Linked DNA regions of Homo sapiens. The protein of the gene in region 1 purifies or fractionates together with the protein of each later gene. This does not show direct contact. Each region holds a gene or a part of one and is shown in the gene's direction. Other genes may lie near its edges.

Region 1 (5,473 bases):
TTGTATTGATTATATGCCATTGCCTCATTTCATTGTTCAGGAGGCACGTCCAAATCTCAAGGCATGGGAGTGAGGGGTGGAGTGAGGCTCCTGGTTTCAGAAAGTGCTCCACTCATTTGATGTTGAGTAACTGATATTTTCTCCTTTGAAGTCTCTGGTTTATCTCCCCAGCTTTAGAATAAGGGCCCTTTCTCACACTACTTTATATTCAGCATGTATGCAATTAATGCTTGGTGATAATAATGGAAATTCTATATATCTAAGGTAATACTTAACATCTTCTTCACAAAATGGACTCTGGTTTTTTTTCTTATTAGTGGTTCATTCATTTTCCTAGTCATTTATTTACAAAAAAAAAATAACTCTCTCATTTAAGTCCTCTTGCATACTGCTGCCACATCAGTTTCCTCAAGACACTTGCTCAGTCCTCTTCTATGGCTTCTAATTAATTTTTAATTCTATCAGACCCAGTGCCTCCTGTTATTAACAAATACTTCCTGATAAGAAGTATCTAGAAAATAAAACCTACTCATGCACATTCTGAAAATCAACATAATTCCCTTAAATGTAATTTAATGGTATAATGTAGAAACAAAAAAGTTATTTATTTTAAAAGTAGTGTTTCAAAATGCAAGTGCTTGATGTGATTATAACTAGGGAAATAACAACGTAGTCAGGTGTTTGCACTGAAATATAATTAGTAAGTTCAAATTAAGGAGGAATAAGAAGACCAGAAGCCCAAGAAAATCAAAGAGCAATGGTATAGGTGGACAGTGAAATGAAACTAGTATTGAGTCAGATAATACAAGACTAGACAGAGAAAGTGGGGCCCTTAATTGAAGTAAGGCTTAGATGTTGTAAATTGAATTATGTCCCTCCAAAAGATATATGAAAATCCTAACCCCACGTACCTGTGAATGTGACCTGATTTGGAAACAGGCTCTGTCTTAGTCCATTTTGTGTTGCTAATAACAGAATTCCTGAGACTGGGTAATTTATTTTAAAAAGAGGTTTATTTAGCTCAAAGTTCTACAACCTGGGAAGTCCAAGATCATCAGCCTATCTGGTTAGGATCTCATGCTGCTTTAGCTCATGGCAGAAAGTGGAATGATGGATAATCAAGTGTGTGCAAGGAGACCACACATTAGAGGCAGCCATCCTTTAAACAGTCTGCTCTTGGAGCTGAGCAAGAGCAAGAATAGAAAGCTTATTCAAAGAAATAACAATAGGCCGGGTGCAGTGGCTCTCAACTGTAATCCCAGAACTTTGGGAGGCCATGGCAGGAGGATTGCTTGAGGCCAGGAGTTTGAGACCAGCCTGAGCAACACAGCAAGACCCTGTATCTATTTAAAAAAAAAGAATAGGCCAGGCGTGGTGGCTCATGCCTGTAATCCCACACTTTGGGAGGCTGAGGTGGGTGGATCACGAGGTCAGGAGTTCGAGACCAGCCTGGCCTACCTGGCAAAACCCCGTCTCTACTAAAAATACAAAAAAAAGGAGCCAGGTGTGGCAGGCACCTGCAATGCCAGCTACTCGGGAGGCTGAGGCAGGAGAATCGCTTGAACCTGGGAGATGGAGGTTGCAGTGAGCCGAGATCATGCCATTACACTCCAGCCTGGGCAACAAGAGCAAGACTCCATCTCAAAAAAATTAAAATAAAATAAATTAAAAATAAATTTTAAAAATAGAGAAATAATAACAAAAATCTTCACAAAACTTGTGAAAGATATAAATGTCCAGGTACAGGAAGATCTGAGAACACTGAACAGAATCATCCCAAATAAGACTACTCCAAGGCATATAATAATCAAACTCTCAACTGTCCAGGAAAAAGAGAGGATCTGAAAAGCAGCAAGAGACAAGAAACAAATAAGGAGCTCCAACTTGTCTGGCAATAGACTTCTCAATGGCAATCATACAGGCCAGGAGAAAGTGGAATGACATTTTCAAAGTACTCCAAGAAAAAAACTGACATTCAAGAATATTGTATCCAGCAGAATTATCTTTCATATATGAAGGAGAAAGTCTTTCCCAAACAAACAAGCTGAGAGAGTACACCACCACCAGACACATCTTACAAGAAATGCTAAAGAATTCTTCAGTCTAAAAGGAAAGAAGACTAATGTGCATAAAGAAAACTTTTGAAGGCATAAAAGTCACTGATAAAATTAAGTACATGGACAAACCCAGAATACTTTATTACTGTAATAGTGACATACAGTATACTCACAACTGTGAAGCCCCAAGACATACCTATCAAAAACAATAATAGGACTGGACACAGTGGCTCATGCCTGTAAACCCAGTTCTTTGGGAGGCTGAAGTGGGAGGATCACTTGAGACAAGGAGTTTGAGACCAGCCCAGGCAACATGGTAAGATCCTGATGCTATACCTGGAGACATGAGACAGAGTGAGACCATATCTTTAAAACAAAACAAGACAAACAATAATGGCTAGCAACCTGTTAAGAGATAGGTAATATAAAGATATAAATTGAGACAACGAAAAGTCAAAATCTAGAGGAATGGAATTAAAGCATATAATTTTTTTCTGTGTGTTTCTGCCTTTGTTTCTACTCTTGTATTTGGGATCTAAGATAAGTTGTTATCTCTTTAAAATAACTTATTATATCTGAAGGTCTTCTTTGTAAGCCTCATGATAACTACAATGCAAAAACCTATAATAAATTCACTAAAAATAGCAACAAAGGAAGGCATACTATAAGAGAAAATCACTTAGCCACAGAGGTTTTTTGTTGTTGTTGTTTGAGATAGGGTCTCACTCTTTCACTCTGGCTGGAGTGCAGTGGTATCATCTCAGCTCACTGCAACCTCTGCCTCCCGAGTTCAAGTGATCCTTCCACCTCAGCCTCCCAAGTAGCTGGGACCACAGGTGTGTGCCACCATGCCTGGGTAATTTTTTGTATTTTTTGTAGACCTGGGTTTTTGCCATGTTGCCCAGGCTGGCTTGAACTTCTGGCCTCAAGCAGTCTGCCCACCTTGACCTCCCAAAGTTCTGGGATTACAGGCGTGAGACACCATGCCCGGCTGTATATAACAATTATAAATACCTATGCATGCAACACCAGAGCTCCCAGGTATATAAGGAAAACATTAATAGATCTAAAAGGAGAGTTAGACTGCAATACAATAATAGTAGGAGATTTTAACACCCCACTCTCAGTAATTGACACATCATCCAGACAGAAAGTCAACAGAGAAACGATGGAATTAAACTACATGCTAGATCTAATAAGCCTAACTGATATTTACTGAACATGTAACCCAACTGCTACAGAATGCACATTCTTTTCATCAGCACGTGGGACATAAGAATAGACCATATCTTAGGCCACAAACAAATCTGAACAAATTTTTAAAAAATATAAATCATATCAAGTATCTTTTCTAATCACAGTGGAATAAAACTAGAAAGCAATAACAAGAAAAACCTTGGAAACTACACAAACGCGTGGAAATTAAATAGCATGCTTCTGAACAACTAATTTGTCAGGGAAGAAATTAAGAAGGAAATGTAAAAATGTCTTGAAACTAATGAAAATAGAAAATGTGACATATCAAAATTTGTGGGATACTGCAAAAGCAGTACTAAGAAGGAAATTTATAGCAATAAACACCTATATCAGAAAAGTAAAAAGACATCAAATGCACAACCTAATGATACACCTCAAGGAACTAGAAAAGCAAGAACAAACCAAACTGAAATTAGTAGAAGGAAACAAATAAAGATTAGAACAGAAATAACTGAAATTGAGACCAAAAAAAAAAAAAAAAAACCCAGAAGAACAATGAAACAAGAAGTTGGATTTTTTTTAAAAGATAAACAAAATCAAGTCTTTAGCTGGACAAACAAAAAAGGAGAAGACCCAAATGAATAAAATCAGAAATGAAAAAGACATAACAGCTGAGACCTCAGAAATACAAAGAAACCATTAGAGACTTATGAACAACTATGACAATAAATTTGAAAACCTGGAAGAAATGGATAAATTCCTAGATGCATGCCAACTACCAAGATTGGACCATGAAAAAATAGAAAACCTCAGCAAACCAATAACAAGTAACGAGATAGAATCTGTAATAAAAAGTCTTCCATCAAAGAAAAGCCCAGGACCTGTTGGCTTCCCTGCTGAATTCTACCAAACATTTAAAAAGAACTAATACCAATCCTATTCAAATTCTTCAAAAAAAAAAAAAAAAATTGAAGAGGAGGGACTACTTCCAAATTCATTCTAGGAGGCCAGCATTGCCCTGATACCAAAACTAGACTAGGATACAAAATAAAAAGAAAACTACAGACCAACATCACTGATGAGCATAGGTGCAAAAATTCTCAATGAAACACTAGCAAACTGAATTCAACAACACATTAAAAAGATCATTCACCATGATCAAGTGGGATTCACTCCAGGGATGCAAGGATGGTTCAACATATGCAAATCAATAAATGTGATATATCACATTAATATAATCAAGAACAAACACCATATGATTATTTCAATAGATGCTGAAAAGCATTTGATAAAATTCATTGCTTTTTGATAAAAACCCTTGTCAAAATTGGTATAAAAGGAACATACCTCAAAATAAGGGCCATATATGACAAACCTACAGCTAACATCAAACTGAAGGCCTTTTCTCTAAGGACTGGAACAAGATAAGAATGCCCATCTCACCACTGTTGTTCAACATAATACCCGAAGTCCTGGCCAGAGCAATTATGCAAGAGAAGGAAATAAATGGCATCCAAACCGGATAGCAAAAAGTCAGGTTAGTCTGTTCGCAGATGATATAATCTTATACCTCGAAAAACCTGAAGACTACACCAAAAAAACTGTTAGTGCTGATAAACAAACTAAGTAAAGTTGCAGGATAAAAAATCAACACTCAAAAATTAGTAGCATTTATATACTTCAATAGTGAACAATCTGAGATAGAAATCAAGAAAATGATCGCATTTACAAAAGCTACAAAAAATATAAAATACTTAGGGAATTTAAATACTAAAAATTTAAACACCAAATTAAGTTAAATTTAGTGTTTAAATTCCCTAGGCATTTTATATTTTTTAGTATTTTATTTATAATTTATAATTTAGCATTTAATTACTAAAGAAGTGAAAGACCTGTATAAGGAAAACTAAAACTCTCATGGAACAAATTGAAGAGGACACAAAAACACTGGAAAGATATTCCATTCTAATGGATTGGAAGAATTTATATTATTAAAATGACAATACTTCCCAAAACAATTTACAGATTCAGTGTAATCACTATCAAAATACCAATGACATTCTTCACAAAAATCAGAAAAAAAAATTCATGTGGTGAGCCCTTAATCTAATGACTCATATTCTTATAAGAAGTCCATATTTGCAAATTGACCAAGGGGTTGAAAAAAAAGAAAGAAAAATGCCCAAGTGAAAACACACACAGGGAGAATGCCATGTGAT
Region 2 (4,596 bases), on another chromosome or scaffold:
AGTTCAGTAATCAGGGAGAAACTTCAGGAGGTCTTACAAGATCTGGGCCTGGGCCCTGAGGCTTCCCTCTCCACCGCCCCCTCTTGTCATCAGCAAACCTGGAAGAACAGTGCTGCCTTCAGCCCCCAAAAGATGCCCCTCTCCAAGGAGCTCGGCTTTAGCCCTTACATGGTGAGGAGAAGGCGGGCAGCTCAGCGGGCCCGCTCACACTTTCCTGGCTCTGCACCCTCATCTGTGGGGCATCGGGCAAACAGGACTGTTCCTGGGGCACACAGCAGGCTACATGTGCAGAATGGGGACAGCCCCAGCCTGGCCCCACAAACTACTGATTCCAGAGTACGAAGACCTTCTTCCAGGAAGCCTTCACTACCTTCAGATCCTCAAGACAGACCAGGTACCCTGGAGGGCAGCAAACAAAGCCAGACAGAGCCCGAGGGGGCTAGAGGGAGCAAAGCAGCCTTTCTTCGCCAGCCTTCTGGTTCTGGCCGGGCCCCAAGTCCTGCTGCCCCATGCCTCTCCAAAGCCTCACCTGACTTGCCTGAACAGTGGCAGCTGTGGCCCCCAGTGCCCTCAGGCTGTGCCTCCCTGTCTTCTCAACACAGCTATTTTGATACTGAGTCCAGCAGCTCAGATGAGTTCTTCTGCCGCTGCCACCGGCCCTACTGTGAAATCTGCTTCCAGAGCTCTTCTGACTCTAGTGACAGTGGCACATCAGACACTGACCCTGAGCCTACTGGGGGGCTGGCTTCCTGGGAAAAGCTGTGGGCCCGCTCCAAGCCTATTGTGAACTTCAAAGATGACTTGAAACCCACGCTGGTGTGAAAAGCAACAGAGCTGGTCTAGACACAGAGGTCAGTCCAAGAGAAGCTGTACCAAGGCCCACAGGAGAAGAGCCAATTTCTGGTCTTTGGGGAACAGATTAGTGCCCTGCATTTGACCAGCCCATACCATGTTTCAGCTAGGCTCACTGTGTTACTTTGAGTACTTCTTGATCTATAAAAAGAGAGGCATTGCCTGTCCTGTTACTACCTCGCAGCCTTACTATAAAAGACTCCAGTTGAGTGACTATGAAAGACACTGACTCCTTGGATAAAAGGTGCTGAATGAACACATAGGATTTTCTGTCCAGGTCAGCCTACATTCTGTAAAACTCTTAATATATTCAGATGGATGGCTGAATGGACAGACAGATGGAGAGATGCATGGGAAATTTCTGTAGAACTTGAGGTGTGGACTGTGACCCATCAAACTGGCCTTTTGGTGGACAGACCTACCAGGAAGATAAGTCTCCTACATCCTTGGGCCTCCCACTCCTGGAAGGCAGTGGTTTTATTTCTGCTGAATGTTGTGAACAGCACCTCCCTAGATTCCAGCTTCTGGCCAGACCCAGCTCAGAGCCACCCCTACACCACTATTTCTTGATGGTGTCTTTCCACCATTATGGCACTTTACCCTCCTCTCTGAGACAGATCTCCATGCGCCCGCAGGCTTCCCAGATCTCTCCCCTGGGATCGGATGTACCTGAGGTCCTGACTGTCCCCACTGTCCCCTTGTCCTGTGGCTCATCCTCGATTCACCCACTGATGCAGTTTTGTACTGCGGGGAGGCACACACCAGCAATTTCTGTTGGGGTATGGGAGAACCTGTTGGTCAAGAGTGCTTTTGGTTCCATTGGGGTTACATGACTACCAACAGACACATAAACCTGGAAGCCAAATGGAGAAATAAAAAGGAAGACACGAGGGACACGAAAACAGGAAAGAAAACAGGATTTGAATATTTCACTTGAGTCCAGCATAGTACTTGGCAATATCATATTTTTGTGATTCCTTTTGATAACCCTGTGAAGTAGACACTTTCATTTTTACAGACAAGGATTATGAGGCTTAGAGAAATGAGGTAGTTTCCCGCAACATCACACTGCTGGACAGAGATGTACACACAGCTCCTGGGACTCAAGTAGGTGGGTTTTCCCAGGGACACATGGCTTCATGTGTTCTTCTGGGAATGGCAGGTGACGCTTGGCAGACGAGACAACAAAGCAAGGCTCATGTAAGAAAGCTGGGATGTGCTCCCCTATAGTCCAGAATAATAGACCTGGGTCCTCACCTCAGGAAACGGGCCTCCACTTCCTCACTGCCAAAGGCCACACTGGCACCTCCCAAGGGAGCTGGGGAGCTGGTGAAGGATGAGTGCGAGGAACTCAGCCACCACCAGAGCCACAGGGAGAGCACACCTGGGTCCACTGTGCTTATTGCTGAGCTGGCTGTCATGTCCAGGCTGTCCCCTGCCCCGAGTCCTGTGTATACATCTGTGGGTGTGCACATGTTTGCATGAAGGAATTCAGGCCTTATTAAATATTCTCAGAGGGGGGCATTTGGCTCTAAATGTATCATCAATTTATCATGGAATCTTGGGGGCTGCTGACACCCCTGGACTCTCCAGGCACTGAACCATGAGGCCCTCCTGGAAGCACAGCTTCTTCTATCATCTACTTTTAAACAGGAATTTCCTAATTTATTCTGTGCATGGGTTTGCAGTTTCTTGTGCTGTGTGTGTGCTGTCCAAGTGGTACCATAATAAAAGAGAAATGACTCCCGAGAGGAGTCTTTTCAGAAACTGTAATCTGGGGCTGGCCAGGAGGGGCCCGGAGAAGGCTGACCCACCCAAAGAAGGGGAACCAGAGAAGCCATCAGAGCTGCTGCCGGGCTACCCTGGGTCCCAGTGTACCTTCTACCAAAGTTCCATTTGAACAGATTCTTCTGTGTTCTCCCTAAGAAGCCTCTTATCCCAGAAACACTCCCTCAATGGACATAGGAAACCCTGGAGACCCTGGACTCTTCCTGCCCCTGGGGGTCCTGTGGCTGGGCTCCCCCTCCTGCAGCTCCCTTCCTCCCAGCATGCCACCACTAGCAGCCCACCATTCATTCATGTGGACTCTAAATCTGGCAATCCTTCTAGCCTTCTCACTCTGTCTGCTTCTAGAACCTTAGTCCCACCATCCCCGCCCTTCTACATCTCCATCCTTCTGTTTAGAATTTTTTTTCCCACTTTGTGCCCTTGTGAATTATTCATCCTTCAAGGCTCAGGTGGAGCATACATTCTTTCTTCAACCTTTCCCAGCCATCCCCAAAGAAAGCTGATTGATTCCCTAGTTAAATAAGGAAGGATGGGCTGGAAGCAGTGGCTCACGTCTGTAATCCCAGCACTTCGGGAGGCCGAGGCGGCCGGATGACGAGGTCAGGATTTCAAGACCAGCCTGGCCAACATGGTGAAACCCCGTCTCTACTAAAAATACAAAAATTAGCCGGGCGTGGGTGGCACATGCCTGTAATCCCAGCTACTCAGGAGCCTGAGGCAGGAAAATTGCTTGAACCGGGAGACAGAGGTTGTACTAAGCCTAGATGGTGCCACTGCACTCAAGCCTGGGTGACAGAGCAAGACTCCGTTTCGAGAAGAAAGAAAGAAGAAAGAGAAAAAAGAGAAGGAAGGCTGTCTTAGGGTCTGTATTTTGGACTCAACTATATAGAGGCTTCTGTTATCCATTTGACCTAGAATGACTTTGTAACGCTTGCCAGACCTGATTGAAATTTATCATTTTGTTCAAAAGCAATGTGCAAACACCATAACTGTGCTCAACAAAATGTTGCCACCAAATGTATCATTTACTCTGTGCATCACCCCTACCCTTCCCCACCTCCTTTCCTAAATTTTTACCTAAGATCAGCTAATCCAGTGATGAAATCCTTAAAGGGCTGAATGTGCCATGACTTTTGGCATGCTCTTGGTTGTTCTGCTCTTGAAGAAAGGGCAGTAAATTGTGCAAAGGAATCCTGGAGAAGTAAACATTGCCTCTGCTGCTGTCATCTGAGCTATACATGTCTCTGTTGGTCCTAAGGCATAGCATGGAGCCAGGCCTGATTCTAACCCCAGCATATGTCCTCTGCTGTTGAAAATCTTGGAATTTCAACATTTGGATTCCATCCTGATCCCAATGTCTTTCCCTGTCCTGGTCTGCCACAAACCCTCTTTCCTTAAAGGTTCAACTTGGCCTTCCTAGAGTTCATAGAGGAGAAAAAAAGCATCAGAGGCAGGAGGCCTGTTTTTAAAGAATGATATCACTTTGAAAGAGGAAAAGAGAAAAGTCAATGCAAGTTCTATAAAATCTCTTCTGTATCTGTGTTTATCGTATTATCTTTACATGTGTCTCCTCCACAGATTCCAAGCTCCTGAAAGCATTGAGCATGTCTTCTCCATCGTTTTTCTCCTCTAGAGTAGCCATTACAGATCTTTGCACAAAGTATACACCCAACAAATGCTAGATGGGTGGATTTCTGGGTAGATAAATGGGTGAAACAAAGGAAGGCAAAGTTTCTGTTTTGGGGCCAGAGCGGAGGAGCAGGAGGAAAAACACGCATCTGGTTCCACTGCCTTCCGGTGAGTTAACAGCATGAAACTACATCACCTGCAGACCCAGGAGTCACTGAATTCTGAAAATGACAGTACTTTAAGTTTGTTGGGGGGTTGGGGAACAGGGCAATGAAGTTTATGGAAGAGAAGCGCAAAGTTCTTGATAAAGTTCTTGTCTTAAAGACG
Region 3 (5,473 bases), on another chromosome or scaffold:
CTGGATACTTGACATCATTTTTGGCAGTTAAATTACATAACAATGGAACCATTTCATACAGCTGTTCCTGTAATTGCCCTTTCTTCACACTTTCTTTAAAGAAGCTGATTACTCATTGGTGACTTTTTCTTTGATTTAGACTGACATTGGTTTTTACCTCCTAATGTGGCTAAAACCTTACTCTAGATAGAAGCTTCATCTGTGCCATTTTCTTCTTGTTCACATCTGTTTATATTATTAGTGTGTCCTGTAATTGCAGTTTCTCTATAAGAATCTTTTTTTTTTTTTTTTTCCTTTTCCTGATAGGGCTTTGCTCTGTCACCCAGGCTGGAATGCAGTGGCGTGATCGTAGCTGACTGCAGCCTCAAACTTCTGGTTTCATGCAATCCTCCCACCTTAGCCTCCTGAGTAGCTGTGACTGCAGACACAGTCCCCATGCCCAGCTAATTTTTTTCTTTTTCATAGGGACAGGGTCTTGCTATGTTGCCCAGGCTGGTCTCAAACTTCTGGCTTCAAGCATCCTCCTGCCTCATCCTCCCAAAGGGCTGGAATTATAGGCATGAGCTACCATATCTGGCCACAAGAATCTTTAAAGCTGCTTGTCTCTTTTATGACAGAGTCTCGCTCTGTGGCCAGGATGGAGTGCAGTGGCGCGATCTCGGCTCACTGCAACCTCCGCCTCCTGGGTTCAAGTGATTCTCCTTCCTCAGCCTCCCAAGTAGCTGGGACTACAGGTGCCCGCCACCGCGCCCAGCTAATTTTTCTATTTTTAGTAGAGACAGGGTTTCACCATGTTGACCAGGATGGTCCCGATCTCCTGACCTCGTGATCCGCACGCCTTGGCCTCCCAAAGTTTTGGGATTATAGGCATGAGCCACTGCGCCCAGCCAAAGCTAGATTTAGAAATCCATTATTTCACATAACTGGTCTCAGATAAACCAGTCTACATCACAATGTCTAAAATGAACAACACCTGTGACAGGTCAGCACAGACTAAGTAAGTGTATTAGTGTCAATTTATAGCTTAATTTCTCTCTCTTTTAAGATACAGACATTCCAATTATTTTCTTTCTGTATCCTTTGCGGATCATCTTGTACTTTGGAAACCACAATTTAACTGCCCAAGTCACTCATAAAAATAGCAAAAGTAGCTGGATGGTACAAAAGTAGGTCCCAGGGCTTCAAATTTGGTTGAATATTGACTCCAGTAGGCAGCCACCTACTACTGAGCAAACCTAACCCTCAGTTATGTCATTTGTAAAACAGCACTTAACAGTTTGGCCGACCTGCTAGGGCTGTTGTAGGGACAAAAGAAGATGGTGCGTGTACTGCTTTAAGCCTGGCACCTGGCACTCTGCTAACATTCAGCTCTCTGGGCTGGGCACTGTTAATGCTCCATTTCGTAACCTGCTGTCAACCTGCAGGTAAATCACTCTGACTCCAAGCAAACACCCTGAGGGTGGAGTCGGCCTGTTTGAGGTTTCTGTTTGCAAATCTTGATATATGAAGTGACAGTGGAGATTGTACAGTTTTTTCCTCGATTTGTCAGGATTTTTTTTTTTTTGACGGAGTTTAACTTCTTGTCTCCCAGGTAGGAAGTGCAGTGGCGTAATCTCGGCTCACTACAACCTCCACCTCCTGGGTTCAAGCGTTTCTCCTGCCTCAGCTTTCCGAGTAGCTGGGATTACAGGCGCCTGCCACCATGCCCTGCTGACTTTTGTATTTTTAGTAGAGACGGGGTTTCACCATGTTGGCCAGGCTGGTCTTGAACTCCTGACCGCAGGCGATTGGCCTGCCTCGGCCTCCCAAAGTGCTGAGATTACAGGCGTGAGCCACCACCCCCGGCCTCAGGAGCGTTCTGATAGTGCCTCGATGTGCTGCCTCCTATAAAGTGTTAGCAGCACAGATCACTTTTTGTAAAGGTACGTACTAATGACTTTTTTTTTATACTTCAGGAATAGTAAAGAAACACATCATAAAACCTCCCAGGACATAAAGGTGAGCACAGACCCTGTTTGGATCAAGTCAGTTCCTGGAGCCTGAATGATGACTGCTGAATCACGGGAAGCCACGGGTCTGTCCCCACAGGCTGCACAGGAGAAGGATGGTATCGTAATAGTGAAGGTGGAAGAGGAAGATGAGGAAGACCACATGTGGGGGCAGGATTCCACCCTACAGGACACGCCTCCTCCAGACCCAGAGATATTCCGCCAACGCTTCAGGCGCTTCTGTTACCAGAACACTTTTGGGCCCCGAGAGGCTCTCAGTCGGCTGAAGGAACTTTGTCATCAGTGGCTGCGGCCAGAAATAAACACCAAGGAACAGATCCTGGAGCTTCTGGTGCTAGAGCAGTTTCTTTCCATCCTGCCCAAGGAGCTCCAGGTCTGGCTGCAGGAATACCGCCCCGATAGTGGAGAGGAGGCCGTGACCCTTCTAGAAGACTTGGAGCTTGATTTATCAGGACAACAGGTAAAAAGAGGTGAAACCTATTATGTGTGAGCAGGGCACAGACGTTGAAACTGGAGCCAGGAGAAGTATTGGCAGGCTTTAGGTTATTAGGTGGTTACTCTGTCTTAAAAATGTTCTGGCTTTCTTCCTGCATCCACTGGCATACTCATGGTCTGTTTTTAAATATTTTAATTCCCATTTACAAAGTGATTTACCCACAAGCCCAACCTGTCTGTCTTCAGGTCCCAGGTCAAGTTCATGGACCTGAGATGCTCGCAAGGGGGATGGTGCCTCTGGATCCAGTTCAGGAGTCCTCGAGCTTTGACCTTCATCACGAGGCCACCCAGTCCCACTTCAAACATTCGTCTCGGAAACCCCGCCTCTTACAGTCACGAGGTAAGAAGCAAGGTTTCATTTAGGGGAAGGGAAATGATTCAGGACGAGAGTCTTTGTGCTGCTGAGTGCCTGTGATGAAGAAGCATGTTAGTCCTGGGCAACGTAGCGAGACCCCATCTCTACAAAAAATAGAAAAATTAGCCAGGTATAGTGGCGCACACCTGTGATTCCAGCTACGCAGGAGGCTGAGGTGGGAGGATTGCTTGAGCCCAGGAGGTTGAGGCTGCAGTGAGCTGTAATCATGCCACTACTCCAACCTGGGCAACACAGCAAGGACCCTGTCTCAAAAGCTACTTACAGAAAAGAATTAGGCTCGGCACGGTAGCTCACACCTGTAATCCCAGCACTTTGGGAGGCTGAGGCGGGCAGATCACTTGAGGTCAGGAGTTTGAGACCAGCCTGGCCAACATGGTGAAACCTTGTCTCTACTAAAAATATGAAAATTAGCCAGGCATGGTGGCACATTCCTGTAATCCCAGCTACTCGGGAGGCTGAGGCAGGAGAATCACTTGAACCCAGGAGGTGGAGGTTGCAGTAAGCCGAGATCGTACCACTGTGCTCTAGCCTTGGTGACAGAGCGAGACTGTCTTAAAAAAAAAAAAAAAAAAAAAAGAATTAATTAAAAATTTAAAAAAAAATGAAAAAAAGCTGCATGCTTGTTTTTTGTTTTTAGTTATTCTACATTGTTGTCATTATTACCAAATATTGGGGAAAATACAACTTACAGACCAATCTCAGGAGTTAAATGTTACTACGAAGGCAAATGAACTATGCGTAATGAACCTGGTAGGCATTATTTATTGAATTATCAGCATTCCAGATGTCCAGCACATTTTTAATAGGAAAGTATTGGGAACAGATGTCATTATTTTCAGCCTAGGTTTTAAAACATTTTAGTATGTCATGAATTATCTTCAAAAGGATCATAAATCTTTTTTAAAGGTCCATTTTATTTAAAATATATAAAAATAATCACTGCACTGCAGCCTGGGTGACAGAGAGTCTGTTTCCAAAAAAAAAAAAAAAAACTATAGCATCAGTCTTTTCTAGGTTATTTTCAGAAATTTCAAACAATGGGAAAAGAATGGAAGAACTTTTGAGGGGAGTTGAGGAACACGAAAAAAGATCAGTTCACAGTCATATAAATAAAAAGTCATGTTACTTGTTTTTTCTCTTTTGACGGAAATATGTAATACATTTATCCAGTTTTAAAATCAAAGTATGTGCTTAGAATGTAAAGACAAGGAATGCTAAAAGTACATTTATCACTTAATGGCAGGGATAAGTTATGGTAAGTGCAATGTTAAGTGATTTTGTTGTGCGAACATCATAAAGTATACTTATACAAACCTAGATGGTCTAGCCTTCTCCACACCTACGCTACAAAGCTGTACAGTATGTTACTGTACTAAACACTGTAGGGAATTGTAACACAGTGGTAAGTATTTGTGTATCTAAACATCGAAAAAGTAAAAACAGAGTATAAAAGATTTTTAGCCCAGGCACAGTGGCTCACGCCTGTAATCCCAGCACTTTGGGAGGCCAAGGTGGGTGGATCACTTGAGGTTAGGAGTTTGTGACCAGCCTGGCCAACATGTTAAAACCCGGTCTCTACTGAAAATACAAAAATTGGCTGAGCGCAGTGGCTCACACCTATAATCCCAGCACTTTAGGAGGCCAAGGCAGGCAGATCACCTGAGGTCAGGAGTTCGAGATCAGCCTGACCAACGTGGAGAAACCCCGTCTTTACTAAAAATACAAAATTAGCCAGGCCTGGTGGCAGGTGCCTATAATCCCAGCTACTCAGGAGGCTGAGGCAGGAGAATTGCTTGAACTCAGGCAGCAGAGGTTGCGGTGAGCCAAAATCGCACCATTGTCATGCCATCGCACTCCAGCCTGAGCAACAAGAGTGAAACTCATCTCAAAAAAAAAAAAAAAAAAAAAAAAAGTACACCTGTATGGAACACTTAACCATGACTGGAGCTTGCAGGACCGGAAGTTGCTCTGGATGAGTCAGTGAGTGAGTGGTGAGTGAATGTGAAAGCCTAGGACACTACTCTACCATAGACTGTAGAAACACTGTACACTTAGGCTACACTAAATTTATCTTTAAAATTTTTGTTTCTTCAATAATAAATCAGCCAGGCATGGTGGCTCATGGCTTAATCCCAGCACTTCGGGAGTCCAAGGTGGGCGGATTACTTGAGGCCAGGAGTCTCAGACTGGTTTGGCCAACATAGTGAAACACTGTCTCTACAAAATAAAAAAATTAGCCAGGCGTGGTGGTGCATGCCTGTAATTCCAGTTACTCAGGAGGCTGAGGCACAAGAATTGCTTGAACCTGTAGGCAGAGGTTGTGGTGAGCCAAGATTGCACCACTGCACTCCAGCCTGGGTGACAGAGTGAGACTCTGTCTCAGAAAAAAAAAATAAATAAATAAATACAAATAATAAATTAGCTTACTGTAACTTTTTTACTTTATGAACTTTTTGATTTTTTTAACTTTTTGACTGTTGTAATAACATAACTCAAAAGACAAACATGTTGCACAGCTATACAAAAACATTTTTTATCCCCCTATTCTATAGGGGTTTTTCTAGTTAAAAAAATTTTTATTTTATACTTTTTA
Region 4 (6,143 bases), on another chromosome or scaffold:
GGGCATGGTGGCGCACACCTGTAGTCCCAGCTACTTGGGAGGCTGAGGCAGGAGAATCGCTTGAACCCAGGAGGCAGAGGTGGCAGTGAGCAGAGATAGCGCCACTGCACTCTAGCCTGGTGACAGAGCAAGACTCTGTCTCAAACAAACACACAAAGAATGGAAATTCATGCCACCAGTGAAAGCTAGGATTGATGATGGATTTATTGCCAGAACTTGGGAAGAATTTTTACTAAAGCCCTATAAAAGTGGTCAAATAAAAAAAATTAAATGAAAATCAAATCCACAAAGATTAGAAACCAGTCTTAGCCAATTTTGGTGAGTTGAGCACTCTCATATACATTTGATGGGAATGTAAATTGGCATGAACTTTCTGGAAAGCATTTTATAATAGCATATGCATTAATAGGTTTAAAAATATTCATACCTGGTGGCCCAGAAGTTGAATTTTAGGAATTTATTCTAAGGAAATAACCAGGGGTGAGGTTAAGTATTTATACAAAGGAATGCTTGTTCCAGGTTATTTATAATAGCAAAAATAAAAGAGTATATTCTAGATTATTTCCCCCATGTTGAAATAATTTTTAAAAGTATAGTGTATTCAGAGGACAGAATATTATACAGGCAGTAAAAATGTAATTTTAAGTGTCCTATTTGGAAGAAATAAAAACATATAAATAAAGAAGCCTGGAGACATCCTACATCTGATAACATGGCAGACTAAATAGTTGGGCTGATTCGTCTGCCAAAAACAACAGAAATGATAAAATAAATAATAAAATCTAAAGATATCAGGTAACAAAATAGTAATGAATTATAAGATAACATCAAAGTAAAGAATAATACCTAGAGAAATCATCTTGCAGAGATTTGATTTTTTAAAACTATGCCTAAAGTTTACTCAAGGAAGAGCATCTGATAAGAGAGCTTTCCCCCCATAAACCAAGGACTGCAAAAGTGTGGATTATCAGAAGAGATCCGGTACATTCAGGGTGGTATGGCCATAGACAAGGGCTGGGTTATCAATGTAAGGGTGAGAGATAAGTCTCCTCTCCCGTACCCCTACCACCAGGAGCCAGCAAGGCAATTTGTCTTAGTGCCACGCTGGACAACCACAAAACCACAAAGATTTGTGGTTGAGAAGTTGCAACCACAAATCACCCCTCAATATTTGCAGCCCAAATTCATATTACTATTATAGCATGGTTCAAAAATCCTCAAATTATAAATTTGGTTTACAATGACCTTGGACTGGTGATGCTGACAAGAAAAAAATTTACATGGAAGAAAAACAATATCAACCCTCTCTAGATAAATTCACTTTATCCTGGAACTCAAAGAAATTTCACAAAAATGTTTCCAAGGAAAATGAGCAGCCTGTCACACAAGGAAACAAGGTACTGTGGTATGTTCGAGGAAGGTATGTTTGAGGAATGCCCCCAATTAATGTCCTGGGGACATTATTTAATGCTCTAGGGACATTATATAATGTCCCCAGAACTCATAAATCAATAAGAAAGAGATAAACAGCTTAATAGAAACACAAAGAAAAGTCCGTTCACAGAAAAGGGAAGGCAAGAAGTTAATGAAAGTAGGAATAATGACTGACCTCACTTATAATGAAGAACATGCAAATTAAAAAATGAGGTAACATTTACTTCACCTGTCAATTGGCAAAAATTAAAGCTGGATAATGGCAGAGATGATGAGATATGGGAAATGGATGCTGTTAGGTACTGCTGGTGGAAGTGGCACCATCAAAAACAGTGGAAATAGCAGATCACAGAAAGATATCTGAGGGGACTTCAGATCTCAGAATTATCAGGCTCAACTATATTTACTATGTACAAAGAAAAGCTTAAACATATCGGTAAATTCTTTTAAAAGATCGATCTAGAATATTTGGAAAAAATCAAATAGAAATTCTAGAAATGGAAAAAATATATTAATTAAAACAAAAATATGGGTGGCCAAGTGGGGAGGATTGCTCGAGCCCAGGAGTTTAAGACTAGCCTGGGCAACATAGTGAGACCCTGTCCTTACAAAACATTTTTTAAAGATTAGCTGGGTGTGGTGGCTCATGCCTGTAGTCCCAGCTATTTGGGAAGCTGAGGTGGATTGCTTGAACCCAGGAGTTGGAAGCTGTAGTGAGCTATGATAGCACCGCTGTACTCCAGCCTAGGTGACACAGCAAGACCTCGTCTCTTAAAAAACAAAACAAAACAAAACAAAAAAACAACAACTGTGGATTTTGTAGCACATTAGAAACAGCTGAAAAGTGGATTATTAATAAAAAGGTGAAGACATAAACCCAAGTCAAATATGGGCAGACAAGAAAAATATGAAAGTGGGACAGAGACATGGAGGATAAAGTGAGATGGTCTAACACCTATGTTATATTCTAGGAGTTCATTTACTCTATAAGTGTATATTTTTAGCAAATATTGTACCAGACACTTTGCAAAGTGCTGGAGAAGAGTAAGACAAGAGGGTTTCCTGTTTCCTGAGTGGATTCTGGAGTAACACTGGGCCACCCAGTTGAGACAGACTGCCTTCAGGCTGGACGCGGTGGCTTGCGCCTGCAGTCCTAGCACTTTGGGAGGCCAAGGGGGGAAGATCGCTTGAGTCCAGAAGTTGGAGACCAGATTGGGCAACATAGAGAGATCCCCCTCTCTGCAAAAAATTGAAAAAAAGTCCCAGCTACCCAGGAGACTGAGGTGGGAGGATTGCTTGAACTCAGGGCTTCGAGGTTGCAGTGAGCTATGATCTCACCACTGCACTCCATCCTGGGAGACAGAACAAGACTTCTCTCTCTCTTTCTCAAAAAACACAAACAAACAAACAAACAAAAACCCCCCACAAAAAACAGCTCCGATGCTGGCTCCTCCAGGAAGCCTTCCCTGACTACACATACACACACGCACGCACACTACCCGGGGTCAGGAGCCTCTTAAGTGAGCCGGTTAGATCCAGTGCGCCCCCTATCTCCTCTGCCCCTACGCCTCGCGCAAGGCCCTCGCAGCCGGAATAGTCGCGCATTGACCGACTGGACTCTAAAGCCCCTTGGGGCAGGTGCTGTGTCCAGTAGTGTATCTGGCGATGCACCGAGTCCTTTCCACGGAGGGCAAGCAGGTGAAATGGCACGGAAGTGGAAGGGGCCTAGCCACAGAGCGCCTCGAGCTGGGCAGTCAATCCTGGGGAAGCCCTGGTGGTCTTCGCCTCGCCGGGTTCGGAACAGCAGGCTGGGATCAGCAACCATCGAGACGCATCCGCCGAGACCTCCGAGCATCCTAGAGAGGACACGGAAGCGAGTCTTTCCTTACGCACCTGTCTAACAGCGTCCGCAGCTCACTTCCGGACCGCGGATAGCACTGGCGACCCTAGCGGGTGAGAGGCCCTTCAGGGCCGCGGCGGGTGAGAGCCTCTTCAGGGCCGCAGCGGGTGGCGGGCGAAGTGGTAAACGGGCGCGGGGACGGGTTTTGGTGCCGCTACGGGGCTCGGCGGCAGCGGGGTTGCAGTAGAGCCCGTCTCCCTCCGCTCAGCCCCGGCTGAGGGCGGCAAGTCTCTCAGGAGCTGCCTTCAGCGGCCCCGAGGCCCTGCGGGTCTGGACGCTGAGGGGCCGCCGCGCTGTAGGCTCAGGTAGGAGCGAGGCTGATCCCGCTCTGCCAGGCTTGGCTTAGTGCAGGGCTGGCCACGAACCCGAAGAGATCTTGAACCAAAGCAGAACTCTGTGCAAAGTGAAAGTAATCACATAGGACACTTATTTAAAGAATAGTGATGAGCCAGCCTGGTCAACATAGCGAGACCCTGTCTCTACAAAAATTGAAAAGTAGCCGGGCGTGGTGGCACGCGCCTGAGGTCCCAGCTACTCGGGAGGCTGAGGCAGGAGGATCGCCTGAGCCCAGGAGTTCAAGGTTGCACTGACTTACATTCATGCCGCTGCACTCCAGCCTGGGCAACATGGGGAGACCCTGTCTCTACAAAAATAAATAATTAGCTGGTCATGGTGGCACTCGCCAGTAGTCCCAGCTACTCGGGAGGCTGAGGTGGGAGGATCGCTTGATCCTAGGAGGCAAAGGCTGCAGTGATCGCACCACTGGTCTCCAGCTGGGGTGATAAAACCCTGAGATCCTGTCTCAGAAACAAAACAAAAGAGTCACAATGGGTGGGGGGAGATAAAGAATAGCAATGGGGCAATTTCTATTTGTCAAATGGCAGAGATAAAAGATGAATGAGGATCTTTCTTGCCTCCAGGGAATCTGTTAGAGGGAGACACATGGGTAAACATTTGCACTGTAGTGCATTAAATGCACTAGTGGAGTGAACCAATGCAATAGCTAGAAAGGAATGAAAGAGAAATCTCAATGTTGCAGAGTCAATGAATAGACTGAAAATATAAACTTGGTTTAAGTGGGGGTAGATAAATACACAAACTCACAATAGAATATTTAGCAGAAGCTTTGGGGTGTGCCTCCTGCCAGCTGCCCATTCTCTGCTCCAGTCAGGTGATCTTTCCGTTTTCTGACAAGCAGGATCTCCTTCCCCTGGTGCTTTGGACTTCCAAGTCTGTCTTCCCAGTCTAGGTCTTCCGCATAATCCACTTGGAGGTAAATAGGACTCATTCTCCAGTCTACTTCAAGCCTCTTCTTTTCCTTGAGTACTTGGACTTAGATTAGTTTTCTCTCTTTTTGACTTCACATTTTTTTTTCAATCTGTACCATGTATTTTGGGAGGCAGTTATCATCTAGTCTCTTTTTTTTCTTCTGAGAAGTAGGAGGAGTAGCACTCATCCTACAGAAGTGTTTTAAGTATTAGATGAAATATGTGTTCACATGCTTTCTAAAGAGTAAAGCCTGTACAAGTTAGAAATCTTTAGGTCATTTGTCATAATGGTATATATGTTGCTCCATTGTCTTTTTCAGGTTGAGCGCACCATCACATCTAAGCCATCAGCAAGTTTGTTGGTTTTAATCTCCAAAATACGTCTTGATTTTGTCTGACTCTTTGCCACCACCCTGATCTAAGCCCTTATCATCTGCTTGAATCACTGTAAGTGCCATTTCCCTCTTGCCACCTCTAGCCTATTCCCTGTCAACACACAGGCAGAATGACTTTTATAAAACATGTAGTTCCTCGCTAAAGTAAGAAATAAGAATAAAGTTCATAATTCTTTCTGTGGCGCAGGCTCTGGGTGATCTGGTTTCTGTCTGCCTCTGCCACCTCTTCTGGTGCAGCTCTGCTCGTCACTGCTGAAGCCACACTGGGATATGGCTTGTTCTTGGACACCCAGAGTAATTTCTTAGCCTCAGGGCTTTTGCCTGGAATGCTCTTAGAATGACTGACTCATTCTCATCCTTGAGTCAGCCTGGTATCATGTCTTTAGAAAAGCCTTCTTCAAGTCAGTTGCCCCCTGTTAACAGAGCACCCTACTTATTTTCTTTCTAGAACTTGTCTCCACTTGCAGTTTTTAAAAGAGTTGCTTCCATTTGACTTTTTCTGTCTGCTGTACCAGCATATGAGTTTCAGGAGGGTAAGCTCCCAGTGTGTCTTGTTTTCTATTTTATTTGTTGTTTCTGCCTGCCTCTTGTGTGTGTATATGTGTGTGTTTGTGTGTTGCATGTATGTTTCCTTTAGTATTGGAAGAGTAGGCCCTGGTGACTCACCCAGTTATAACCCATTATATATTATTCTCTGATTGTAGTGTTATTCTCCAGTGAGATCCTAAGTTATTTGTGGGTATAAAAGCAAAATCTTAGACATTTTCTGTTTAGTCTCTGTACCTAATAGTTGCTTAGCAAATGATTACTATGTTGAATTGACCTGACTTTTGGGATCTGTGTTCAGTCTTTTGAAAATGCCTTGTAAAAGGTAATTACTGTGTTCTCCAGTGGAATATTCCTTGATGTAGAGACAGAACTGGGATGGGCTGACCTTTCATGTGTCTCTTGTTCTCAAAAGGGTCATTGATGCAGTCATTCTCAGTCTCCTCGGAGGGAGTCTGAAGATGCTTAAAGAGCATCCAGAGATGGCGGAAGCTCCTCAGCAGCAGTTGGGTATTCCTGTGGTGAAACTGGAGAAAGAGTTGCCATGGGGCAGAGGAAGGGAGGACCCTAGTCCAGAGACTTTTCGGCTGAGGTTTCGGC
Region 5 (4,611 bases), on another chromosome or scaffold:
CAGAACTGCACTTACCAGGTTCCTCTCCATGCCAGGCCCCTTCTCAGCACCATCAGGGATCATCTTGTTCAGTCACACTCCCAGGAGGATGGGCTGCGACCTCTGTCCAGATCTGTGTTGAGTTTGGAGAACTAGAGCCTGCGTGGTGAAGGGAGCCACACTAGCTAGACCAGTTTGGCTCCTCAGTTTCCGACTGTGACGGTTGGGAAAAATTTTCTTTCTTTTTTTTTTTTTTGAGATGGAGTCTTGCTCTGTCGCCAGGCCGGAATGCAGTGGTGTGATCTCAGCTCACTGAAACTTCCACCTCCCGGGTTCAAGCAATTCTCCTGCCTCAGCCTGAGTAGCTGGGATTACAGGCATGAGCCACCATGCCCGGCTAATTTTTTTGTATTTTTAATAGAGACGAGTTTTCACCATGTTGGTCAGGCTGGTCTCGAACTCCTGACTTCATGATCCGCCTGCCTCAGCCTCCCAAAGTGCTGGGATTACAGGCGTGAGCCACCGCGCCCGGCCCTTGAAAAGTTTCAGAATTACTATAAATCTGTTCTGCTGTGGAGCTTGATATCTGGGGTTCAGAGTGGGACATTGGATCCCAGTGTGGCCTGCAGGGCACAGATGGCTTAGGGGGCTGGCCCATGCAGGCGGGATCAGAGGCTTATTCAGACTGCTGCTCTGCCGAATTTTTTCATCATCCCTGATTTATTTGGGTTTTTGTTTGTTTTTGAGACAAAGTCTCGCTCTTGGAGTGCAATGGCATGATCCCGGCTTACTGCAACCTCCGCTTCATGGGTTCAAGTGATTCTTCTACCTCAGCCTCCTGAGTAGCTGGGATTACAGATGTGCGCCACCATGCCCTGCTGATTTTTGCATTTTTTAATAGAGACGGGGTTTCACCATGTTGGCCAGGCTGGTCTCGAACTCCTAACCTCAGGTGATCAGCTCGCCTCAGCCTCCCAAAATGTTGGGATTACAGGCTTGAGTCACTGCGCCTGGCCAATCATCCCTGTTTTATAGATGAGGAACCTGAGAATTCAGCTGTGTGAACCCAGGGCTTTCTGAACCTGGAGGCCAGGGAGCTTTCCCCAGCCTTGTTTCTTCCTCACCTCAGCTCTGGCCCCAGAACCGCGTGGGACTGAAGAGGTCGCCTCCTTCCCCTTGCAGGTTTTGGGCTCAAAGGCCAAAGTGAGAAGTCCCTGCTGCAGGAGATGGTGCCGGTGGTGCCAGGCCAGACAGGCAGCGACGTGACTGTGTCCTGGAGCCCCGAGGAGGCTGAGGCCTGGGAGAGCGAGAACCGGCCGAGGGCGGCCCTGGGCCCAGTGGTGGGCGCGCGACGGGGGCGGCCACCCACTCGCCGGCGCCAGTTCCGGGACCTGGCAGCCGAGAAGCCGCACAGCTGCGGGCAGTGTGGAAAGCGCTTCCGCTGGGGCTCGGACCTGGCGCGGCACCAGCGCACGCACACGGGCGAGAAGCCACACAAGTGCCCTGAGTGCGACAAGAGCTTCCGCAGCTCCTCGGACCTGGTGCGCCACCAAGGCGTGCACACGGGCGAGAAGCCCTTCTCCTGTTCCGAGTGCGGCAAGAGCTTCAGCCGCAGCGCCTACCTGGCCGACCACCAGCGCATACACACGGGCGAGAAGCCTTTCGGCTGCAGCGACTGCGGCAAGAGCTTCTCGCTGCGCTCCTACCTGCTGGACCATCGGCGTGTGCACACCGGTGAGCGGCCCTTCGGCTGCGGAGAGTGCGACAAGAGCTTCAAGCAGCGCGCGCACCTCATCGCGCATCAGAGCCTGCACGCCAAGATGGCCCAGCCCGTGGGGTGAGCAGCTGGCTTGGCCGGAAACCCGGGGGAGGCCCAGCCACGGCACATCCTGCTTTGTTCACCACTGGGACTCTCCTTCCATCTGTGGCCACCTCCCGGGCTGTCCGAGGGACCCCAGGGTACCTCACACTCGGAGCTCGCCTGCCCTGCTTGGCTCTGAGGACCTGCCCAGCGCTCAAAGGGAACGGAAGCCTTCCCCTCCCGCCCCCGATCTTGTCCTCTTTCCCCCTTCTGCGCCTAGCGTTCCTCTTCCCCTCTAGTTTCCTGGAGCCCCAACACATTCCTGGCAGGGACAGCAGGGTGGCAAGGACTCAGGTCTAGGTCCCTTCCCAGAAGCCCCCGAGCCTCATTTGACTGTGTGGCTCTTTGGCCCCCACCCTGTGGGGTGGGTCCATGGGTCAGGCCTCTGCCCTACCAACCTGTGCCTTTCAGTGGGCGTGGAGGACTGGCCTTGGCCCCCCAGGGGGCTGCTGGACTTTGGGAGAGACAGCCCACACCTGTGGGACCGCGGGTCTTAGTCACGGCGGCAGGGGCTTTCTGGCCCCCTCCCACTCCCGTTTCCAGGCCATGACCACTCTGCCCTGTCCTGGCCATACGGACTCGGCCTGCCTTTGCCCTCGGCCTACTTGCCCTAGCATGAGGCTCTGAGAGCCACCTGCCCACCAATCTGGTGAGGATAATGGTGGCTCCAGCGACAGGAGGCCAACCCTGGAGACCAAGAACAGGGCGCCTGGCTGCCATCTTTTCCTCCAGAGGTGGGGCTGCACCAGACTCAGCACTAGCACTCCATCAGCACTAGCACCTCACTCCATCAGCACTAGCACCTCACTCCATCGGCCCCGGCACCCTGCTCCATCGGCACTGGCGCCCTGCTCCATCGGCACTAATGCTCCACTCGGCGCCCCACTCCATCGGCCCCGCTCCATCGGCACTAATGCCCCACTCGGCGCCCCACTCCATCAGCACTAATGCTCCACTCCATTGGCACTAACGCCCCAACTCCAGCGGCACTAATGACCCGCTCCTTTGACATTGGTGCCCCACTCCATCAGCACTAACGCCCTGCTCCATCGGCACTGGTGTCCCACTCCATTGTCACTAACGTCCGGCTCCATCGGCACTACCACCCCGCTCCATCATCACTATGTCCAGCTCCGTCGGCACTACCACCCTGCTCCATCATCACTACGTCCAGCTCCAACGGCACTGGTGCCCCATTCCATCGGCACTAACGCCCCGCTCCACCGGCACCAGTGCCTCGCTCCATTGGCACCAACGCCCAGCTCCACCGGTACTGGCTCCCTGCTCCATCGGCACTAACGCCCTGCTTCATTGGCACTTTGCTGCTGCCTCCTGAGCACTGCCTTCCATGAACAGGGACAGACCAGAGGCCCTGCAAGGACTCCCCCTCAGACCTCCAAAGGGCAACAGAAGAGTATTAATAAACGTGAAAACTTACCTCCAGGCTGTTCTGTTCTTTCGGTAGCTGGAGGGTGGGGATACCTGGAATATATGCCCCTTGCCCTGGCCTTGTGTCCTGGTGGCACATGCTGCTGCACCGTGACCAGGCGGAGCTGCGTCCTTGGCGTCCAGGTCGGCTGGGCCCCAATGGGCAGCCGTGTCCCCTGGGACTCTTGTCCCCCTGTGTCAGCTAGTGCCTGCCCTGCTCTGGGAGCACCGTCGGTGCTCCAGCAGAACGGGGAGCTGAGCAGGACTCAGGGTCTTCACCAGGCCACTCCTCTCCCACAACTGTGAAAGGAAGAAGGGCCCATAGACGCTGCTTGGTCAGTGGTGGGACCCTCTTGCTGCGTGTTGGGGATCTGGAACTCAAGGCTGCCCCAGGCTGAGTCCCTTGGAGGAGGGGCTGACAGCGGGCTTGCCCTTCCCACCAGCCCCTGACATCCAACTTCTCCCTACCAGGAGCCCCAGGCCGGGACCCACCAAGGGCTGGTGGGTGCGTGGTCAAAACTAGTGATCATCCAGGCACGACCCCTCCTTCCACCCATGCTGGTTCCTTCTCTTTCACCTGCTAGTGGCCTCAGGGCCCCTGGCTGAGGGGAGGCGGGGGCCGGTGGACAAGACGCTCTGGTCCCTTGGTAACAGGTGTGCATGTGCCAGCCCTCTCTGCCCCTAGGCCTTTCTTAGCCAACCTTCCATGCACACATCATCCTGCGGTCACTGTCATGGTCTCCGTTTCCCGTAAGAAGCAAGCAAGGTCTCGCTGTGGACAAGGCTGATTCCAGTTGGTGATTTTTACCTCTGGGGGCCTGGTGCTGTGTGCATGCGTGTGGCGGGTGGCCGGGATGGTACAAGGACTTCTTGGTGGCGGTGGCTGGCTCCAAATGGAGACACTCGGGTGTAACGAGATCAGATAAGCACGTAGGCCAGGAGCTAAGAATAGGATTGAGCACAGGTTCCTGGCTCGGGTAGGGGCATGTCAGTGCCAGCAAAGAAGTCACCAGCAGGAGCCAGAGAATGAAGCCCAGGCTGGGAGAGCGGGGCCAGGACCCAGGGTTCCAGGGATGGGGCAGAGTCCAGCTCAGCTCATAAGCAGAGCTGATAGTACTCGTTAGGGTAGAGGGCAAGGGTTAGGACCCAGGGCACTGAGAGCCCAGGGCCAGGAGGTGAGCTCCGAGCTTGGTGCTTGGAGGAAGCCCCGTCTCGCCCTATGGCCTTCCTGGTGGCTGGGACCCTGCGGCTGGCCACGCAGATGGCAGACACTCGAGACAGCCTGGGGAGAAAGGTAGCAGGAGGCACCGCCTAGCCCAGCTGCTCCTGCCTCCCTGCTGAGC
Region 6 (5,473 bases), on another chromosome or scaffold:
TAAAGCAAATCAGCTACTTAAAAGAGCACAAATTCTTTTTGAGTAATAAATCAATGATAGACTGGATAAAGAAAATGTGGCACATGTACACCATGGAATACTATGCAGCCATAAAAAAGGATGAGTTCATATCCTTTGTAGGGACATGAATGAAGCTGGAAACCATCATTCTCAGCAAACTAACACAGGAACAGAAAACCAAACACCACATGTTCTCACTCATAAGTGGGAGTTGAACAATGAGAACTCATGGGCACAGGGAGGGGAACATCACACACCAGAGCCTGTTGGAGGCTGGGAGGCTAGAGGAGGGATAGCATTAGGAGAAATACCTAATGTAGATGACGGGTTGATAGGTGCAGCAAACCACCATGGTACGTGTAATACCTATGTAACAAACCTGCACGTTCTGCATGTATATCCCATAAGTTAAAGTCTAATTAAAATAATCTATGAAAATAACAATGTGTGTGTGTTAACCTTAGAGATTTCAGTGATATTATATCCTAACTGGGCTGTCATTTTATGCGGAGGAGTAATGTTTTTAGCTTTGTTTCAGTTTTTAAAGAAATGTCAACAGGAGGATTATTTTATTTTCTCTTAACCATCTGCCAAATCTGTTAACTATACAGGTGTGAGGTTAACAATACATTGATAAAGTTTGTGTGATATTGAGGACACATAACCTGACAAAATTTTAAAAACAACCAAACATTTAAGTCTTTTGCCTGTGATCTGTGTCTGTTTGTATACATACACACTGGCATTTTTTATTGTAGGCTTGTTTTTGTGGTTTGTTCTTTGTATTATATTTGCTAATATTATTTTTCCTATTTTTCCTTTGATGAGTCAGTTATTAGAGCATTGAAAAGAGGTTCTACTGAGGAAAGGCCTCTCTGTCACTTCTCTTCTTTGTCAGCTTTTCACTTTATGGTATATTTTGCTCTATGGTGGGGAGATGGTTCTGGGCTCATGTTGACGCCAGAGAGAAACAGAATGTGCTGAAAGTAAGAGTGGCTAAGGAAAGCTGTGTTGCCCAGATGGAAGCAGTCATCACAGATACCAAAATCTCATTTACATGAGAGATTTGTTGTAGATATACCCCTCTGCCCTTAAGAAAGACATTTCCTTGCTTATATTTCCAGATAAATAATGTTGAAAATTAATTTGCCCTAGGGATAATTATCTTATTAAATTATTTTCATTATGAGTGATAACTTTGAAGGAACCAAAATGAATGATAGTAATGAGTGATGCCTATTTACGTGAAAGGGAAATCTAGGGTTTGGGTATTAGAGCTTTTCTGTTCATGGATCTGCTAGCTGTGTGGTATTTTTAAGAATAATGACTAAGAAGTGGATTGAGATGAATCATAATAGAACAACCTTCTATTTTCCCAAGTTTCCATCTGGCAGGAATTTTATCAGTATTTTGGGGGTGGGGGTGGGATACATTTTTGAGGAGAGAAGAGTAACTGGTTTGGCCATATTCCAGTTATAACATTGTTTCTTAGAGTAGCTTCTAACTTACTGACTTTGATCATTTTCTTTTAGTCAGCCTTCTAGTGGATTAAGTAAAGGTGGTTTGCAAATTATCTGTTTGTAGATCATTGATACATTTAGATAAGAATCCTATTTGTATCTATTTGAACATTAAAAGCATAATTTACTCTTATTCTAGAACAGGTATTTGTGCTATCAAGATGTGATTGCCATGAAAGTAGTCATGTTTTAATTTTTTTTAATTGGCTTAATAGGTCACTTTAGACAACTGTGTTGAAGTTGGACGGATTGCCAACACCTACAATCTAACCGAAGTGGATAAATACGTTAACAGTTTCGTCTTGAAGAATTTTCCTGCATTGCTGAGCACAGGGGAGTTCTTGAAACTCCCTTTTGAGCGTCTTGCCTTCGTGCTTTCCAGTAATAGCCTTAAGCACTGTACTGAACTTGAGCTCTTTAAGGCTACCTGTCGTTGGCTTCGCCTGGAAGAGCCTCGGATGGACTTTGCTGCAAAATTAATGAAGAACATACGATTTCCACTGATGACACCACAGGAGCTCATTAATTACGTGCAAACGGTGGATTTCATGAGAACTGACAATACTTGTGTGAATTTGCTTTTGGAAGCCAGCAATTACCAAATGATGCCATATATGCAGCCAGTTATGCAGTCAGACAGGACTGCCATTAGGTCTGACACCACTCACTTGGTTACACTAGGAGGAGTGCTGAGGCAGCAGCTGGTTGTCAGTAAGGAATTGCGCATGTATGATGAAAAGGCCCATGAGTGGAAATCGTTAGCCCCCATGGATGCCCCAAGGTACCAGCATGGCATCGCCGTCATTGGAAATTTTCTCTATGTGGTTGGCGGACAGAGTAATTATGATACAAAAGGAAAAACGGCAGTTGATACAGTCTTCAGATTTGATCCTCGATACAATAAATGGATGCAAGTTGCATCTTTAAATGAAAAGCGCACCTTCTTCCACCTAAGTGCCCTCAAAGGATATCTGTATGCAGTTGGTGGGCGAAATGCAGCAGGTGAACTGCGTAAGTGCATTTATATTAAGCATAGAGACAAATTTCTTCACTCAGAAATTCTTATCAAATCATAAAATAAGCAGTCCTGTAAAATCAGATAAAAATGTAGTTAGGGTTTTATTTTAAAACTATTTTTCTGAGAAAATATTGAAGACCATCTTTATGCCTTATCTGGGCATATATCGTTGGCAAGGGAACAAATTGTACGTTACAAATACATCAGTATATTGTAGCATATTTCACCTGTGCAGTATATATGGTCTTCATCTTGAAGGTTCATCTAAAGAGTATACTTAGCTCATTTAAATTATAATAAGGTCTTGGATAGAAGTTTGGCATGTTTTCTCATTTTCTGCTTTTAAAAGGCCATATGATATTTTACTGAACAGGTTACAATCCTTCATTACAGAAAACTTTCATTGTTTCTTCTTTTACAAAATATGTTACCTATTAGTGGCCACAAAGATAATTTTCTTTATAGATTAAATGTACAAAGTTCAACATTATCCAAAGTTTGTTCACTGTGAATATTATGATCTATGACTGTTTTAAAAATAATTCTGTTGACGTAATATCAGATAGTTTTCTTTTCCATAAGCCCATCTGGTAAGCTTTATTTGATGGTCACCTTTTTGTCTTCCCAGTATAAAATTGGTCATAAATGTACTTTGATGTAGAATACTTTGGCTATGTAAATTAACCCAAAAAGGTAAAATTTTATTATTTCAGATAAAATTGGGATAGTATAATTTTTCCAAAAATAAAGGCAGGAAGTCCACATTTTATGTTGTGACATATATTTGTCATTACCATTATTGTTTGGCCTTGTTTTCAATTATTTTATTCTCTATTATAAATAGAGTCTGTCACAGGGAGGGGAACATCACACACCAGGGCCTGTCTGGGGTTGGGGGGCTAGGGGAGGGATAGCATTAGGAGAAATACCTAATGTAGGTGACAGGTTGATGGGTGCAGCAAACCACCATGGCACGTGTATACTTATGTAACAAAACAGCACGTTCTGCACATGTACCCCAGAACTTAAAGTATAATAATATAAATAAATAAGTAAATAAATAAAAAATACAAAAAAGACAGAAAGACAGAAAGGAAGAAAGAAAGAAAGAAAGCCAGATGTGGCTCATGCCTGTAGTCCTAGCTGTTAGGGAGGCTGAAGCAGGATTGCTTGAACACAATAAATAAATAAATAAATAAATAAATAAATAAATAAATAAATAAATAATGTCCTTGTAGTTGACCAATTCCAGGCTCCATAGAGCTGGGAAAGTTCAAAATATTGGCATTGGCTCTGGATAAGTTCAGAGTAATTCTCAGAATCTTTATTTTTCAATATTCTAAGAAATAAAAGATAGTTTAATGTATTTGAGACTAAGCTATTTATCAGAGAATAGAATAACTGTTCTCAGCTTTTATACTTTCCTGTTTATAAAACCCTTTCTTGTTAGTGACATGGTCTTTTTCCTGATCTTTTCTACCCAAAGTTTTTTTTTCTTTGTTGTTACAATGATATTTTTTTCTAAGACCAGATTTTCTAGATTGTTGGACTATGTCGCATGATCATGAACTGCATAGGTTTTCCAATATATTTTAATAATTGGACTTTTAAAAGCAGTTAAGGCATAAGTGTCCTTAGTGTACAATTGTTCTTTAGGCCTCCTCAGTCAACCTACACACATTATTTTCATGTTATTATACTATTTTAAATTTGCGGTATCTGGAAATATCTAGAAGGTGCAAGTAGTGACTTGGTTGTTTCTTAGAAAATCCCTGTATAAGATAATGTTTTCTTAAATATTTTCTTCACAAATAACAGGTCATTAACTTGGTCAGTCTTCTTTTCTCAAAGGAAGTAGCTCCGTTTTTCAAAGTCAGTCCTTGCTTGTTGATATTATCACCCCTGTTAATATGCGGCTACTTAGCTTTCAATATATAGTTCCTAATACTAATTAAAAGCCATATTCTTCTGGGAGTTTTTAATCTTCAGGCCAAGGAGAGTCATTACATAAAACCAAGATGCTAGAGGCTTCTTTCTTTGAACCTATCCCAACTCTCTTTCAGCTGCTCCTATGGTATACCCATCTAGGAACTAGAAATAGACCACACTGTTGGGCAAGTGGCTCATACACAGGAATCCTTGCTCCTGACCTTCAGAAACCACCCCTCCATCTCTGATTAAAAACAGTCTTCTGTGTTTCATTTTGAAAGGGAAAAGAAACAAGGAAATCATGCTTTTCTTAGGGTATTCCTAAATTCATATTTAGGCTTTAACAATAAAATTTCTAAAGCTTAACCTAAGGATAATGACTTAAAAAAATTTCCCCTCTAATGGTAAATATAGGTCCATTTTAATCTTATTTCATAAACTGCATTTAAAAAAAGGCACATGTCATTATAATACAGGCACAAACCATCTATTCCAAGAATTCTAATTCTAGTTATCATCCAATTATTTGATATTTTATTCCATTTGAAATGATCTATAGATTACAAATCTATAATGACCTCATAGATTTGTAACCTATAAGTAGCTAAACTTTTGTAGAAAATGATTGCGTCCCTTAAAATCAGCATACCCATCAAACGCATTCTGTACTAAACATTTTATTATATAATATATTGGAAGTTTAAAAAATATTTTGTGATTGACTTAGTAAGTGCATTCAAATTTAGAGTCTTGATTTCAGGAGAAAAAAGGCCAAAAAGAGTCATTAGATAAAGCCAAGAAGCAAGAGGTTTCATTTGTTTCTGATCCACTCCACCCCCTTTGAGTTCTTTCTATGTTATACTCAAATAGAAGCAAGAAGTAGATTGTCTTGTCACGTCACATCCTGTATTACGGAGGTAACCAAACTTGATGAAACCTGCCTTGATTACTATTGCTCCCAAAGAATAATATTAATGAAATTTCC

What was found.
Region 2: the proteins of PGBD1 (region 1) and GPR156 purify together in Homo sapiens (co-immunoprecipitation; one large-scale study listed by IntAct). This does not show direct contact.
Region 3: the proteins of PGBD1 (region 1) and ZKSCAN1 purify together in Homo sapiens (affinity purification with mass spectrometry; one large-scale study listed by BioGRID and IntAct). This does not show direct contact.
Region 4: the proteins of PGBD1 (region 1) and ZSCAN25 purify together in Homo sapiens (affinity purification with mass spectrometry; one large-scale study listed by BioGRID and IntAct). This does not show direct contact.
Region 5: the proteins of PGBD1 (region 1) and ZNF213 purify together in Homo sapiens (affinity purification with mass spectrometry; 2 studies listed by BioGRID and IntAct, with this or other methods). This does not show direct contact.
Region 6: the proteins of PGBD1 (region 1) and KLHL13 purify together in Homo sapiens (co-immunoprecipitation; one large-scale study listed by IntAct). This does not show direct contact.

What each region holds. Positions count from the first base shown.
Region 1 is NC_000006.12:28,287,346-28,292,818, forward strand, and holds part of PGBD1 (piggyBac transposable element-derived protein 1), read left to right. Parts: intron 1-5,473.
Region 2 is NC_000003.12:120,163,258-120,167,853, reverse strand, and holds the end of GPR156 (probable G-protein coupled receptor 156), read left to right. Parts: coding exon 1-822; 3' UTR 823-2,376; downstream 2,377-4,596. UniProt on the Homo sapiens protein: Orphan G-protein coupled receptor involved in the regulation of hair cell orientation in mechanosensory organs of the inner ear.
Region 3 is NC_000007.14:100,021,464-100,026,936, forward strand, and holds part of ZKSCAN1 (zinc finger protein with KRAB and SCAN domains 1), read left to right. Parts: intron 1-1,431; exon of another isoform or gene 1,432-1,591; intron 1,592-1,955; 5' UTR 1,956-2,043; coding exon 2,044-2,469; intron 2,470-2,690; coding exon 2,691-2,844; intron 2,845-5,473. UniProt on the Homo sapiens protein: May be involved in transcriptional regulation.
Region 4 is NC_000007.14:99,613,603-99,619,745, forward strand, and holds the start of ZSCAN25 (zinc finger and SCAN domain-containing protein 25), read left to right. Parts: upstream 1-3,343; 5' UTR 3,344-3,414; exon of another isoform or gene 3,415-3,639; intron 3,640-4,532; exon of another isoform or gene 4,533-4,607; intron 4,608-4,922; 5' UTR 4,923-5,049; intron 5,050-5,445; 5' UTR 5,446-5,530; intron 5,531-5,958; 5' UTR 5,959-6,004; coding exon 6,005-6,143. UniProt on the Homo sapiens protein: May be involved in transcriptional regulation.
Region 5 is NC_000016.10:3,139,528-3,144,138, forward strand, and holds the end of ZNF213 (zinc finger protein 213), read left to right. Parts: intron 1-1,108; coding exon of another isoform or gene 1,109-1,161; coding exon 1,162-1,820; 3' UTR 1,821-3,277; downstream 3,278-4,611. UniProt on the Homo sapiens protein: May be involved in transcriptional regulation.
Region 6 is NC_000023.11:117,906,380-117,911,852, reverse strand, and holds part of KLHL13 (kelch-like protein 13), read left to right. Parts: intron 1-1,756; coding exon 1,757-2,552; intron 2,553-5,473. UniProt on the Homo sapiens protein: Substrate-specific adapter of a BCR (BTB-CUL3-RBX1) E3 ubiquitin-protein ligase complex required for mitotic progression and cytokinesis.